Linked DNA regions of Homo sapiens: region 1 is linked to region 2. A link means that fine-mapping ties the variant in region 2 to the expression of a gene that starts in the linked region. Tissue or cell type: caudate. Region 2 holds a variant in brackets; the other region holds the start of a gene. All regions are shown on one strand. Distances are from middle to middle.

Region 1 (8,106 bases), 400 kb after region 2:
AAGAGTGAACATTAGCTAACCGGAGAGTGGCTGTCAACTCGGAAAGCCTGGCGCTGAGACATTGGTATTCCTCGGTGAAGTTGGAATAGAAAGTATCCAGTGGGAGAGAAGAGAAAGAGGCATAAGGGACACTGGGGAGAGAAGGGCTTCGAGGAGGAGAGGGCAGGGCTGGGGGTACAAAGAGAAAAGAGGGCCGGGCAGCAACTTCCCTGGAGGGTGAGGGGCCTGCCTGAGATACTGGCAGAAAAGGAGTGACAGCTGGAGAGAGAGGAAAGGGAACGGGGTGAGTGGGGGAAGAGGAAAGAGTCGGGGTGAAGCAGGAATGGGAACAGTGATGCGGAGCTGGGGTTGGGGTGTGAAGCGGAGTCTCAGCCTAAAGGGGCCAGGGAAAGGATCTGAAGGCACCAGCTTGTCAGCGAAGCCGGCAGGGAGCATCAGCAGCTCTGGCGTCAGAGGAGGGACTGCGGCGCCCCCTAGTGGGCCTTTGGTCCTCCACCCGCAGTTTCCTCATCCTCATCTATCCTCTAGATCTCAAGTCCTAAGTGACCTCCTTTGCGACTCCTGTAACACTGGTCTTTTTTCACCTGCTCCCAAAGCCTTCACTGTGTAGGTCTGGGTTGGACTTATTGACATCACAGATGAGTTGCCAGTTCCTTTTGGAAAAGAGCTAGAAAAGGTAACATCATCTATATCCCTTGTCAGTGGAAATGGATGAATTGGGAAACCGAGGTACAAGTGAGACTAGGTATTAAACTCCCCTCAAGATCCGGCCTAGAAATAACTCAGGCAATGGAAAACCTTCACCGTCAAATTCCAGGGGCCTGAACCTGACTGCAGTGAGAAAACCCCTGAACCTAACCCCTCCTTCCAACTCGGGACCACTAAACATTGAAGCCACATTGCCTGTGTCCAATCCAGGCATGGCCACTTATTGGCTTAGGAAAGTGGACAACTTCCTTAATTTCTCATTGGAGCAATCTCATCTCTAAAAAGTGAGCACAATAACAAGAAGTTACCTTCAGAGGGTTCTTGTTAGGATTAAATCGACTCAGAGGTAGAAAGTGCTTTGGAACTGCGCATGACACAGGGTGAATACTGGGCGAGCACTAGCTATTATTACTGTCCCTATTCCAAGTGACACATTCCTCTGGGCCCAGGGCCCCACGCCAGTGCCATTTCGGAGAATTCCTCCAAGCTTTCTCTTGGCCTTCTGCGGCGTTGCTCGGTTCCACTCCCGCCTCCGACCCCTGTCTCACCTCACTGTCTCATCCTCCACCAGCCCCTCCATCCATCCTCCCCAGCTCCCCTGGCCCCTAGTCTCGCCCCTGCCTTCCTCGGTCCCGCCCACCCTCTGCCAACCCCGCTCCCCTCCCCAGGCCTGCTCGCACCCGTGGCTTCCACCATGCCCTCGAGGATAACGACGATCTCGAAGTCGTCCCTCTCGAGGGCACGGCGCGACGCCTCCCAGAAGGGGCTGGCGGCGTCGATCTCGTGGCTGATAACCAGCGGCGAGACGAGGAAGAGGCGGTCGTCTCCCGTGTCGAAGCCCACGCTGAGGTCGGTCTGGTGCAGCGGGATGAACTCGCCCTCCAGCGTCTGGCGCGAGCGGATGAGCTTGGCGCGGATGGAGGCCTCCACTATGTGTGAGGAGCGCAAGTCGCCCACGCGGAACATGAGGCAGAGGCGCCCGTCGCGCAGCGACACCACGGCGTGCGAGGAGAAGACGAGCGTGGCTGCGCGCTTGTTGGGCTGCGAGATCTTGACGAACATGCAGCCCACCATGAAGGCGTTCACCATGGAGCCCAGGATGGCCTGCAGCAGCAGCAGCACGATGCCCTCGGGGCACTGGTCGGTGATGACGCGGTGCCCGTAGCCGATGGTGGTCTCGGTCTCGATGGAGAAGAGGAAGGCGGCCACGAAGCCGTTGAGGTTGTTGACGCACGGCGTCCACGCGGTGTCCTCCAGGTGCTCCAGGTCGCCGCGGCCGTAGGCGATCAGCCACCAGATGGCGCCGAAGAAGAGCCAGGTGAGCGCGTAGGCCAGGACGAAGAACAACAGGCTGAGGCGCCACTGCAGGTCCACCAGCGTGGTGAACAGGTCCGTCAGGTAGCGGTATGTCTCGCGCACGTTGCCCTGCTGCACGTTGCACCGGCCATCCTTCTCCACGTAGCGCTGGCGGCCGCGGCGCCGCGGCGGCTCCTCCTGCCCGGGCGAGAAGGCCGCGTTCTCCTGCGCCATGGCGGCCGCGTCAGGGCGAGCGCTGCGGGCGCCTGGAGTGCGGCGGGGGCCCGAGCTGCTGCCACCTGCCGCGCGTCGCTGGGCGCCTAGGCGGCGTCGGGGGTCCTGGAGGGGCTTAATAAAGGTTTGCCGAATGAGTGGCCCCTCGGGAGATGGGGAGGCACGGGGCATCAGGGCCAGCACCGAGCCCTGGGGGGCCCTGGGCGAGTCCCTTCGTGTTGCCTGGCCTCTATTTCTGGGAATAACACATTCAGCCCTAACTGCCCCCCAGGCTCAGAAAGTTGTGAGGGTCAAATGGAATGATGTACCTGAACTGGATAGAACTGTGCAAGTTCCACGATGATTTTCAGGGGAAGGAGGTACCAGATATTTTGGTGCCATCACCTCCAGCTGGGGTGTGCAGCACCTCAGGGGCAGCCCCGGGGCCAAAGACCCAGGCCCAGATCCCCCTAGTGATTTCCTGAAATCAATAGACTGGGGGCTTTTTGGGGAGGGGGGCAGGCGGGTAATGGAGCCCTCCCTGCCCTAAGGACTTCCACCATCCCTTCCCCAGCTGTAGCCAGTGCAGCCACCAATGGCTCTCCTCGCAGGCTGTTTTGAAGTTCACCCCAAGACTGATACACAGTCTTTCTCATTCTTCCCTCCTTGGACCTCACTCACTCCGCTCCATTCCCTCCCCTCAACATGCTTACAAACGAGAAAGAAATGAAAGCTGTGGAAAGTCAGTGGAAACCCTCCAGTGCACAAGGGTGGAACATTAGGAAATTCCCACTAGAAATCCTCCCTGAGACCTACCCACGATCACTGCTGCTCTTGGGCCAGCCTCATTTCCCTTGGGTTTTTTCTCCTAGTGGAGACAGCCTGCAAATGGGGAGGGGAACTGGAAGATCCCAACACAGAAGCCTGGGAAAGGAAGCCCAGAGTTATAAAGAGTTAGGCTCGTATCCCTCTGGGATCCTATTCTTCATGAGAGACATGGAATCAGATCAGGTGAAGCACTAAGCACCCACATTTATTTCCCCACTCCCTCTAGTTATATTTTCCCCCAGCCTCTTACTTCCCATGGACTATCCTAACACCAGCCCCGCCCCCACCTGCCATATGCCCCAAAGCCCACATTCCAAGCGAAGCCCACCTGATTTTTCTTCACATGCTTGCCTCTGAGGAGCTCTCTGAGCTGCAATCTGCTCTGAGAGAGGTCCAGAGCCCTTCCCCAAAGCACCCAGGGTCCTCTAGGAGATATGGACCATACAGGGAAAGGTTTAGAATAGGATTTGGGACTCTTCCACCTTCCCTTCTCTTTCCTGGGAATGATCCTCTCCTCCCACTCCACGGAAACGTGGGCTGGCTAGTGGGTGGGGGATGGAGGAGTGTGCCATAGGAACCACAGATGGCCTGGATGGTTGACCAGGTCCTGGGGAGAAACTGCCTGGGTATGTGACTCTAAACCTAGCACTCCAGCATCTTATGTTCTGGGGTGAGGTCCTCTGCAGTCAGCACTCTGGAGAGGGTGTGTGTGTGTGTGTTTGTGTGTCTTGGGGTAGAGAAGGTAGGAAGAGAAATCAAAATGAAATGGCTTTGAGCTTAGGGGCACCCCCTGCATTTATTGTCCATGGAGTCAGGGGACACAGGGTCCAAGAGCCCCATGGCAATGGAAGATTAGGGTTTCCCCTGCCCCCAACAATGGGCTTCCTTTTCCTTCCCTGAAGCTCAGATGTCCTCAGGAAGAGTAAGCATTGACTGGCTCAGAGACCCCAGGTCATGCAGAAAACGACCCTGCTCCCATTATCCTAGCTTTAGTCCCAGGTGGGCTTCCAGATGTTCTCTCAGGGTCTTAGGTAATCTGACCCCCAGTCGGCTTGCCTAGACAGATCTCTCTGCCCAGGGATGGGGAAGGAACCCCGATGTCGGATCACCCCCAGAACTCTCTCACTCTCCATTGCCCCAGGGATCTAGGTAAACCTTATTTTGAATGTGTCCCACATCCTGTCTTCCTGAGTGGGGGACTGCACTTTTCTCAGGGGAAGGAAAAGTGTGAAATTGTTACCTCTATCTCAAGATCAAGGACTTGATTTCTCCATCTTCCCTCCAAGAATTTCAGTTCCTCCAACCTACTCCTCATTTCTTGTGCATGCTATGACCCCTTTGCAGAAGATTGCAATACCACTTTTCCTGGGCCCCTCTTCCTCCCTCTAGAGAGCTGGGGAGTAAGGGGGCTCATTTTTTGGAAGGAGAGACCTGGTGAAAACTCCCCCAAGAACCAGCTCCTCCCAAACCCCCACTTGCCTTGGAAATAGGGGCCCAAACCCCAAGTCCCCCGCAACTCAACTCACAGCACGTGGAGAGGAGAGTAGCCGGCAGCAGAGACCCCTGGGGGGTGGCGTCCATGCCCCTGACACCGCCCCCCCCACGGGCCCCCCGAAGGGTGGGAGCCGCAGACACCGCTGTTTCTCCTAAATGTAGCGGCAGCTCTGACTAGGACTTGCTATCTGTGTCATCCCTACTTCCCAGGCTCCCCTGCTCCTCTCTTGTTTCCACGGCAACCAGTCTGGCGACAGCTCCAGAGCATCCCCCTCCCCTCCCCAGTCCTGGGTACCACTAGGGGTTGATCCAAACCACACGCCATAGCTATTTTTAGCCAAAGTCCCTCCTCCTGGACAACTCAGAGCTTGGCTCCTCACCCCCTCATAGGAAAAAAAAAAAAAGAAGAAGAAAGAAAAACAAAGCTGGCACGCTGGCTCTTTCCTAAGAAGCTCCTTCCTGGGGGAAAATACAAGCCCTCATGTATTTGAGAATAAGGTGCTAGGTTCCCTGGGGTTTCAGAGGGCCATCTGGTAGCTGGCAGCTCACCACCTTCAACATGGGTCTCTGCGTGCAGGTGCTGCTCTCAGGTCAGGCTGACCATCATGGTCTAGTTTTGGAGAGGCCATGGATCCAGAAGGCGGTAGCTAGAAGGAAAATAGATCTACTAAAGGAAGGGAGGCAGGGTCAGGGGTTCTAATTATTGCCACTGATTTGCACTGTGTCCCATAGGAGTCACTTCACTTCCCTGAGCCACAGTTATTCCATCTGTACCAGGGTGTGGACAAGAGCAAATATCCCCTTTCTGCCTGCTTCACAGAGTCAGCAGATCAAACGAAGAAAAAACAAACAAACAAAAACCAAAAAAACCACAAAGGGCTTTGAAATGTGTTTTATTCATAGCAAAAACCCTAGAAACAACCCAAATGTCCACCAGAGAGAAAAGCCTAGGTTAGGGCTTACTAAGTATTCACTCGGCAAACTTCTGCGGAGCCCAAGTGCCAGGCAGTGTGTTAGATGGGGTGGTTACAGAATGGGTGAGTCCCTGCCCACAAGGAGCTCATTAACCCAGGAGGGATAAAGACACACAAACACACAGTGGCTGCTGCTACTAATTCACTGAGCATGGGATATGAACGAGACACATGCCTCATGTCATCCCCATGGCAACTCTATAAGACAGGTGTTATTTTTCCCAGTTATAGATGAGGAAACTGAAACAGAGACATGTTAAGTAATTTATCGAATGTCACAGAGTTGGGCAGAGACAGGAGCCAAACTCCCACATCTGTATCACCTCATGCTTTGTAAATTGTTTTAAAAGAAGACTTCTTAAAGGGTAGTTTTAGATTCAGAGCAAAACTGAGAGGAAAGTTATAGAGATTTTCCGTATGCCCCCTGTCCCCACACATCCACCAGAATGGCACATTTGTTACAAGTGATGAAGCTACATTGACATCATAATCGCCCAAAGTCCATAGCTGACATTAGGGTTCACTTTTGGTGTTGTACACTCTGTGGGTTTGGACAAATATATAATGATGTGTATCCACCATTATAGTCTCATTGCTGTAAAAGTCCTCTATGCTCTGCCTAGTCAATCCCCCTTCCCTAACCCCTGGCAACAACTGCTCTTTTTCCTGTTTCCATAATTTTCCTTTTCCAGAATGTCATGTCGTTGGAATTGTACAATATGTAGCCATTTCAAATTGGCTTCTTTCACTTAGTAATGTAAATTTAAGGTTCCTCCATGTCTTTTCATGGCTTTGTAGTTCATTTCTTTTTGGCACTGAATAATATTCCATTTCAGGATGGCCATGGTTTATTTATCTATTTACCTACTGAAGGACATCTCGGTTGCTTTCAAGATTTGGCCATGATGAATACAGCTGCTATAAACATCCATCGGCAGATTTTCATGTGGACGTAAGTTTTCATCTCCTTTGGGTAGATACCAAGGAGCATGATTCCTGGATCGTATGGTAAGAGTATGTTTAGTTTTTTAGGAAACTGCCACACTTTCTTCCAAAGTAGCTGTACCATTTTGCATTCCCATCAGCCACGAATTCCTGTTCCTGTTGCTCCACATTCCTGCCAGCATTTGGTGTTGTCAGCCTTAGCCTAGTGTGCCTCAGTAATGTAATATCTGTGGAATATTAATATCATGGGTTACTGTAAAGCCATAATAATTGCTGTGTTTAAATATGTGAATGTGTATATAACACACTGTTACATAAAAAAGCAGAACCTAAAAATATTCTTAGAAATTGATCATGACTATATTGAAATAGCTTCAGGAACACTGATAAAAATCAGAACAAAATTTGGAGAAACAGAAATATCTTATTGTTTATTTTTCCCCAGGGAAATAATGAAGAGAAGAAAGTGGTTTACAAACGCAAAGTGTTGTTGCTGTTGTTATCAGTATTATTATATCCCAGATATGGATCTATTCTTATCCAGATCCTTTAAATTTGGATCAAGAAAATATGAGCTAGAGGAGCAGGAAGACATAGAGATGGACACGGAGGGCTAGAAGCTCCTGGAATGACCTGGCAAGGTGGGAAATTCGGTACTGGATAATATAAGCTCAGGAGGCAATGACTTGGGTTCAAATCCCACCTCTGTCCACTACTAGCTGGGTGAACCTGAGCAATTATTTAACCCGTTAAACCTCAGATTCTTCATCTAAAAAAAAGAAAACCATATTATTCATCTCTTAGAGGGTTGTCATGAAGACTACATAAGGCAATGCCTGACACATTGTTAGTACTCAGTAAATGCTAGCTACTGTCTTCCTCTTCCTCCTCCTCATTGTCTTCTTCATGGTCATCATCATTGTCACTGTCATCACCATCATCTCAGGGATGTCCTGAAAGCCCCACCCTGCCTGTGCCACCTTCCTCTGTTCTGGCACCACCCTGTGAGGCCTGCAGGGGGCGCCCCCGGTATACTGCCCTCTCCTCAGCTCTCTTGCTGGTGATTCTTGTTGTTCCAAGTGGAAATATCGAGTTTTCAGCCCGAGATTGGCATCAAGAGTGCTGTTAAAGCCCCAGTCAACATCCCCGTCTCCTGGGCCTGGTCCTGTCACCCGAGCTTTGGGACTGCTAGCCTGCCCTTCTCTGTCCTGCCAAGCAGCTGCTCACATTGGTTCCACTGTGCCAGGAGCTCAGAGAGAAGAAACCAAACTCCTGGGCAAGAACACATTTGCATAGAGCTGGCCCTATTTGCTGGAGGGGGCATCACTGGCAGGGCCCTCCACAAGGCAATTTCAGCCAGCCCCTCGCCTCAGTCCAGGTGCCCCTGAACCTAGCCTGGCTGACAAGGAAGAAGACTACCACTCCCTCACCTGATTCACTCATCCTGCAGGTCCTAGACTTTACCTGTTATCTAACCTCAGTTCCTTATTTATCACTGAGCTGAACTGAGGCAGGAGAAAAAAAGTTTTCCCAGGCACCAGGACACAAAAGCATAGACAAGATTCTAGCTTTTGGCTTGGCACGGTGGCTCGAACCTATAATCCCAGCACTTTGGGAGGCTGAGGTACACGGATCGCTTGAACCCAGG
Region 2 (8,106 bases):
GGCCCCGGTGAGCATTCAGACTCTTAACTCTCCATCATAAAGCAGATGGGAAGAGCCAAATGGAAGAGAGAGGGGGATGGCAGAGGGCTGGATAATGACAGAGGAAGGAGTCAGAATGTCATTACTCAGACCACATGCTGTGAGGGGAGATGATCTGTAATCATGGGTCCTACATGGTTCACAGGCATAGGCATGTGAACCAGTCACTCACACAGTTTCTCTTGGTGATATCAGGTTCATTCACCACCCTGCTGATGGAGAAACTAAGTCCCAGTGAAAGGGATCATCCCTTGTCACCCAGCAAGTCCAGGGCACAGGCAGGATTAGAGCATCCAAGGCACAAAACCAAACTGTCTGACTGCATCATTACTGTTCAGCCAGGGTCTGGGCAATGGATAGACACAGTGGAAAGAGAAAACATGATATAGAAACACAAACACAGGCTCTGGACTCAGATTGGCTTTGGGTCTCATTTCATGCATGAGTGATGCATGACATCACTTGCAGAGGAAAAGGCATAAGGTTTGAAGTCAGAAGACGTGCATTTGAGTTGCTGTTTCATCACTGTCTGTATGGCTTTGCACAAGTCAGTTAAGTTTTCTGAGCCTCCAGTTCCTCATCTCCAAAATAATCAAATCCGCTGTAGAGACCTCTGAAAAGCTTAATAATATCCCAAATGTGAAATAACTGGCTCCATTATGTTTGCCAATGAGGTGTCTTTAGCCCTTCCATAGGCAGGGCTATTTGGTCCCAGGAGCTTCCTGACCCACATGTGAAGCCTGAGGGAGACTCTGAAGCTTTAGGGGACCTCAACACCACCTTCTACCCCAAGAGATGTGGTCAGAAATAGACCACATGACTGAGAAGGTTCACCCAGAGCTCCAAAGACTGTCAAGAACGAATGATCCCTCAGGAAAGGAGATGCTTCAAACACCTGCCTATCTGGGGACACAGTGTGCTCTGGGGAGGGAGAAGTCCTGGGAGAGAAGTCCCAGAGTCCTTGTGCCATTGACTGTGCCTTCCTATGTTAACAGCAGAGTCCGCAAGGAACCTAGAGTATGTTTCAGTGTCTCCAACGAACAACACTGTGTATGCTTCAGTCACTCATTCAAACAGGGTGAGTCTTTTCAGCTTTATATGCCATTGTTGTCAGTTTTACAGCCATTGTTCACAAACTTGTCACCATAACCATCTGACTGAACAAATGACCACTGAGGGGAGGAGAAGACAGCCACAGCGACAGGGGCTGCAAAGTTATGCGCTAGACCACTCTGGTGTCTGCCTTTCTCACCCTTAAGGGAATGTTTATTCATACCCTGCCTTACACAGTTCTCCAACCGCTTGATGCATCAGTAAGTCTTGTCCCTTCAGCTTAATTACAAGCTGACTGAAAGTACAAATTATGTCTTCCTCTCTCTTGCCCTATATCCTAGCATAATGATCAGTAAATACTTGCTGAATGGGTCAGAGTTCCACTAAGTTTGAAAGTTTCCTATGGACGTAGTTCCATAGCAGGTGGCTGACTTCTCACTCTGCATGTAGGGGTCTTAGGGGAGTTCAGAAGTAGTCTCTCAAGAGGGGAAGGGGGCACAGTAGAGGCCACTAAACCATGAGCAATGGTTCACCCCTCCCCTCTCATCTAGCAGCATAACAGGATGGCTGGTCAAGCATCAGCAACTCATCTGTCATGTATCAGCAACTCCCCACCACCCCTAAATAAAGGACCTGCAGGTGGCACATCTCTAAATAATACCATACATTTTGAGAGGCCAGTTTTCTGAAAAATAAGCCAGGAAAGCTTAGCATTTTCAAAATGATGTAAGCAATGATCTAGCTAGAAATCTTGGATTCCCTTCACCTATATTTGCAAAGTATGATCCTTGATGACAGGAAGCAAGAAGGGGTACTCTCACTTGCTCAGACATTTCTTTTGCCTTTGCAAATTCCTCCTGAAAACAAGTCAACTCACACTCTGACAAATCAAAAAACTAATTTCCCACAAATTGGTTAGCTTTCTCTTTAGCAAAAAGAAAAAAAAAATGTGCTTTGGAGAGTTTGAGGTTTTTTTGTTTTTTGTTGGTTTGTTTTTTGTTTTTTGGTTTTTTTTTTTTTTTGAGACAGAGTGTCACTCTGTCACCAAGGGCTGAGTGCAGTAGCACAATCACAGCTCACTGCAGCCTCAACCTCCTCATGCTCAGGTGATCCTTTTACCTTGGCCTCCCAAGTAGCTGCGACTACAGGCGAGCACCATCACATCAGGATAATTTTTCTACTTTTTGTAGAGACGGGGTTTCACCATGTTGCCCAGGCTGGTCTCAAACTTCTGCGCTCAAGTGATCCGCCTGCCTCGTCCTCCCAAAGTGTTGGGTTTACAGGCATGAGCCACTGTGCCCAGTAGAGATCTTGATAATTCTCTAAATACTTCTTCATTAATTTAAAGTGTCAAAATCTTTGAGTAGGTTCTTTGAGGGCCGTAGGGACTTCTGCTATTATTTCTGTAATGTGCATTCCAGGCAGAGCCATTCTTAAGGCCAAGTGTTCCTATTCTACCAATTCCCCATGCTTGAGAAGACCCCAATGACATGATGACAAGGCAGTTAGAATTATAGCAAAAGATGGAGCAGGCAAAATGGGTAGTTTCAGTCATAGCTAGTAAAAATTTGAGACAAAACATATAATAAACTATCTGGTATATAAGTTTTTTCTTAAAAATGGAGGAAGGAAAGTAGAGCTGGACAAAGGACAAGAATACTTCCTTCCCTTCATACAGCAAGGCTGCCTTTCTCTGGCTCTTGAGCCCATTGGTTTGCTGCAGTGTTGCTGTTCTGTTTGGGGCTCAGGAAATGCCACTAAATCCTCACAAGTTTGATAGCTAGTCGTGCTTGGTCTTCCACTGAACATTCCCCAGCCTTCCTCTGGAAGAACTTTGACATATTCTCTTTTTTGTCACACAGTCTTTCCTAAGAATATATCTATGCATTAATCTCTTTGTCTCTGTGTAAGCCAAATTGGTATGATTCTTTTTACAGGAAACAGAAATCTGGACACCTAGAGAAAATGATACTATCACAATTTACTCCACAATTAATCATTCCAAAGAGGTAAGCCCACGATTGCTCCATGTTTTTATATTCTTACCTCTCTCCACAGACCTATGATTTTTCAAATAAAGTAAAAATAAAAGGGTCATTTTACAGATGCACAAACAGCAGCAGCATGCGGAAAGTCTCAGGACATCACCAAAACATAATCAAGAAGTTATTTTGTATTAGGATCACCATGCATAACTGAGTTTTCAATTACATGTTTTTAAATTTAATCCTGCCCTATGCTATCAATATCTCTATTATCTGCCTCTCTGTAGTCTCCAGTCCTCTCTCTGTAGTTATGAGGGGTGGGCTGAGGTTCCAGTTCCAATTAACCTACCTCATCTTCCTCTTTTTCCCACAGAGTAAACCCACTTTTTCCAGGGCAACTGCCCTTGACAATGTCGTGTAAGTTGCTGAAAGGCCTCAGAGGAATTCGGGAATGACACGTCTTCTGATCCCATGAGACAGAACAAAGAACAGGAAGCTTGGTTCCTGTTGTTCCTGGCAACAGAATTTGAATATCTAGGATAGGATGATCACCTCCAGTCCTTCGGACTTAAACCTGCCTACCTGAGTCAAACACCTAAGGATAACATCATTTCCAGCATGTGGTTCAAATAATATTTTCCAATCCACTTCAGGCCAAAACATGCTAAAGATAACACACCAGCACATTGACTCTCTCTTTGATAACTAAGCAAATGGAATTATGGTTGACAGAGAGTTTATGATCCAGAAGACAACCACTTCTCTCCTTTTAGAAAGCAGCAGGATTGACTTATTGAGAAATAATGCAGTGTGTTGGTTACATGTGTAGTCTCTGGAGTTGGATGGGCCCATCCTGATACAAGTTGAGCATCCCTTGTCTGAAATGCTTGGGATTAGAAATGTTTCAGATTTCAATTTTTTTTCAGATTTTGGAATATTTGCATTATATTTAGCGGTTGAGTATCCAAATCCAAAAATCCAAAATTCAAAATGCTCCAATAAGCATTTCCCTTGAGTTTCATTGATGTCGATGCAGTGCTCAAAATCTCAGATTTTGGAGCATTTTGGATATTGGATTTTTGGATTTGGGATGCTCAACTTGTACAATGTTTATTAGACACATCTCCTGGGACATACTGCCTAACCTTTTGGAGCCTTAGTCTCCCAGACTGAAAAAGGAAGAGGATGGTATTACATCAGCTCCATTGTTTGAGCCAAGAATCTAAGTCATCCCTGACTCCAGTGTCTTTGTCACCAGGCCCTTTGGACTCTACCTCAGAAATATTTCTTGGACCTTCCACTTCTCCTCCAACTCCTTGACCACCATCCTGTATCCAACCATCACCACCTCTAACCTGAATCCTACCTTAAGATCAGAACAGTTGTCCTCACTTTTGTTCTTGTCCCTCTCCAACCCACTCTCCACAAGATGGCCAGAGTAATGTTTTTAATATAAATTGGATCCTTCAGTTTCCTGCTTAAAACCCTGCAGGTTTCCCAATGCACTCAGAAAGAAATCCAGTTTCCATGGCCCTGGATGGTCTGGCCCACCTCCAGCCTCAGCTAGCATTACCCTTCTGACACTCTCTATGTAGCCTCCCTGATCTTCTTTCAGCTCCTCTATTAAAGGAAAAGTTCTTTATGTTAATTATTTACATCTTCCTGCAGGCCCTTCCTCTGCCTGCTGGGGTCCTCCTATTCTTTAGGTTTAATTTTAAATATGTCACCTCCTAAGAGAAACCTTCCCAGACCACTCTTTCTAAAATGAATCTTCTAGGCTGGGCATGGTGGCTCACACCTGTAATCCCTGTACTTTGGGAGG[C/T]CAAGGGGGGAGATCACTTGAGGTCAGGAGTTCAAGACCAGCCTGGCCAACTTGGTGAAACCCCGTCTTTACTAAAAATACAAAAAAATTAGCCAGGCGTGGTGGTGCACCCCTAAAATCCCAGCTACTTGAGAGACTGAGGCAGGAGAATCGCTTGAACCCAGGAGGTGGAGGTTCCAGTGAGCCAAAATCATGCCAATGTATTCCAGTCTGGGTGACAGAGTGAGACTCTGTCTCAAAAAATAAATAAATAAAATAAAATGAAATAGATCTTATTATTCTGTTACACCTTCTATGTCATTTATCATATCATTAAATATTTATTTTTACTTTTTTAACATCTATTTCTCCCACTATACCCTAAGCTCTTCAGAAACAGAGACAATAACTGTTTTGTTTATCACCGTAACCCTAGCACCTAACACAGTATCTAGCATATAGCAAGTGTTCAAAAAAATTTTTTAATAAATAAATGAATATGTAATGGGGTTTTGTGAAAATGAAATAAGACAATACACCTGGAGTCCTTAGCATAGCTCTCAGCCACATAAAGGAGCTCAATAAATGTCAGTCAGCATTGTTGGTATAATTACTGATACAATTAGTATAAATTAATAATAGTAAAAATTAATTATTACTGAATTACACAGAATCATCTCACAAACCTTCAGCACAACAAGACGTGACAGAGATCAGCTCTCAAGACCACAGGATTCAAAGGGAAGGGGTTGGAGAGTTGGAATGGGGAAAAACTGAAATAATGGCTGAAAAGAATAGAAAAAAACAAAGCTCATCAAAGTTAATTAATCTCAAATACCAGCCATCAATTACAGTATTAGTCAGTGGAGTAGGACAAGATAGGGAAGCTTAATCAAGAAGAAGGAAGAGTTTCCAAGGAATAGGTTCTGGGTTCATGGAGACTTCAAAGAAAAGAGTAAAAAGAGGGTTACTGCCATGTTCGTGCAACATGACCTGAAGCTCAGGAAATCTCACTGGGCAGGTAAGAGAGTGCTTTCCTTTCAAGGGGACCCAAAAAAAAAAAAAAAAAAAAAAAAAAAAAAATATATATATATATATATATATATATATATATAAAGCTTTTTTTGTGTGTGTGGAAACTTTGAAGAATTCCAAGGTTCTTCAGAGAGGGAAAAGGAATAATCTGTAAAGTCAGTGCAGATAGAAAAATATTTGCAACATCTAGGGTGCCCAAAACCAGCAAGAAAATTAGGGGATATGTCATGGAAGGCACAACTAATCCATCTAGTCAGAAATCTACCAGAATCTACCCTGAATCTGGACTGCACTGGGGAGGATCACAAACAAAACAAAAACTAAGGGCGTATCTATAGACATCTAAGAGGTGAGTAAGAAAAGAACTCATAAGAAAGCTAAGCTCACTTGTCTTTATAGACCAGCTACTAAAACATAGAATTCCTGATGTTATATTTCTTTCAATCTCTTCAACCTTCTCCCTTTTTATCATAAATACCACACTCTCTTCTCTTGGCTTCTGTGACACTACATTCCCCGAGTTTTACTCCTTCCTTCCTAGCTGCTTCTCAGGCTCTTTGCAGATCCACTGCCTCCTCCACAGGACCAGTAAAGACTGAAGCTAAGGCTCACATGTGGGTCCCATTCACTTCTCCATCTAAGTACTCTTCTTATCTGATGTCAGCCATTCCTATTGCCTTAATAGCCTTTATAAGCTAATGGTTCCCAAACACATCTTTAGTCCTGACCTCCTGGCTTACCTCATTAACTGCCTACTTGGCATCACCATTTGCATATCTGGTAGATATATCAAAGTTTTTTAAAAAATAAAAACTCTTGGGCAGATGTGGTGGCTCATGCCTGTAATCCCAGCACTTTGGGAGGCCGAGGCAGGTGGCTCACTTGAAGTCAGGAGTTCGAGACCAGTCTGGCCAACATGGTGAAACCCGGTCTCTACTAAAAATACAAAAATTAGCCGGGTGTGATGTTGGGTGCCTGTAATCCCAGGTACTCAGGAGGCTGAGGCAGGAGAATCACTTGAAACCAGGAGGCGGAGGTTGCAGTGAGCCAAGATCATGCCACTGCACTCCAGCCTGGGCAACAGAGTGAGACTCTGTCAAAAAAAAAAAATCAAACCTCTTGATTTCTCTTATCAAGCCTTTTCTTCTACTATGCTTTTTCATATCAGTAAATGGTATCATTGTTATGGGACACTCTTGAACAGATCTCCTTTACAAAACTGAAAACTACCCAGTACTCACCATATAACTAATCATTTTTGTTTTCTTGTGGGAAACAAATGGATTTAATCAACAAAAACCTAATCTATTGTTCTAAAGTTAAATACATTAAGACCCAGATGCCCCATTCCTAAAAGATGAATCATGCATTTTGCAAGCAGGGAAGAAAACATGCAATGCTTATAAAATTCCTACCAAAAAACAAACTTTCTTTGCCCAGGAGGTAAGCTTGTTCTTTAATATTTTTATTGTAGAATTAAGGAAATGGTAGCCCCATTAAACTACTTTGAATAAGGTAAGATGGCTGTGATTGGCTATCCTGGAAAGGTAATAAAAGGGAATAGAAATACTCTTCCCACTCTGCCAGCCCCCAGTCATTCCCACTAGGAGGTCACAAAGTGTTGACAAGGCCTACAAGACCCCTACTCACATCTCTACTCCTTCTTTCACAGCATTCCAGCCACACTGTTCTTTATTCAGCTCCTAGAATAATCTAGACTCTCCTTCCTACTTCTGTGCCTTATGGATACTGGGACCACATCCCTATGAGGCAACAATTAGCTGGTGCTGAGTAGCCTCTGTTCTATTCTAAATGGGGCTTGCACTTCACATTTCACTCCTGGCCTGCCCTGCCTGCTTCACTCACTTAAGATACCTACCTAGTACTGAAAATAGTTAAGTTTCCAACCTCTTACCTACACCATGAAGCTTTGCCCCACATCATGTTGGTCAAAAGAGCACATTAACTAGTCCCAAAATAACAATGTCTGATCTCACTTGTCCACACCCCATCCCACCCTCAAGCCAACACCTGAACCCCGTGTAGCTTTAGGACACTTACTTGAAGCTTTCATCATTTAGCCTCCCTCAGGGTTCAGTGTATACTTTGATATGAGGAAGCAGGGCCACAGCTAGATGCAGAACAGAGAGAAGGCTACCCTGTCCAAGGTCACTGGATAGACATTTCACCCTG

The links. PIP is the estimated chance that this variant, and not a neighbour inherited with it, causes the effect.
Region 1: KCNJ9 starts here. The variant in region 2 is fine-mapped to the expression of KCNJ9 in caudate (GTEx, PIP 0.93).

The regions. Positions count from the first base shown.
Region 1 is chr1:160,078,163-160,086,268 of GRCh38, reverse strand. KCNJ9 (potassium inwardly rectifying channel subfamily J member 9) reads right to left here and starts at 4,731. Exons shown (of 3, transcript NM_004983.3): 1 at 4,572-4,731; 2 at 1,389-2,352. The coding sequence starts at 2,238. RefSeq lists an enhancer at 1,141-1,671.
Region 2 is chr1:160,482,099-160,490,204 of GRCh38, reverse strand. It overlaps SLAMF6 (SLAM family member 6), which reads left to right. Exons shown (of 8, transcript NM_001184714.2): 5 at 1-7; 6 at 1,035-1,117; 7 at 3,030-3,101; 8 at 3,451-5,169. The coding sequence ends at 3,498. Among named protein-coding and RNA genes, the nearest start is that of SLAMF6, 37 kb to the left of the region's middle. RefSeq lists enhancers at 566-625, 736-865. The variant C/T (reference allele first, on the strand shown) is at 4,900.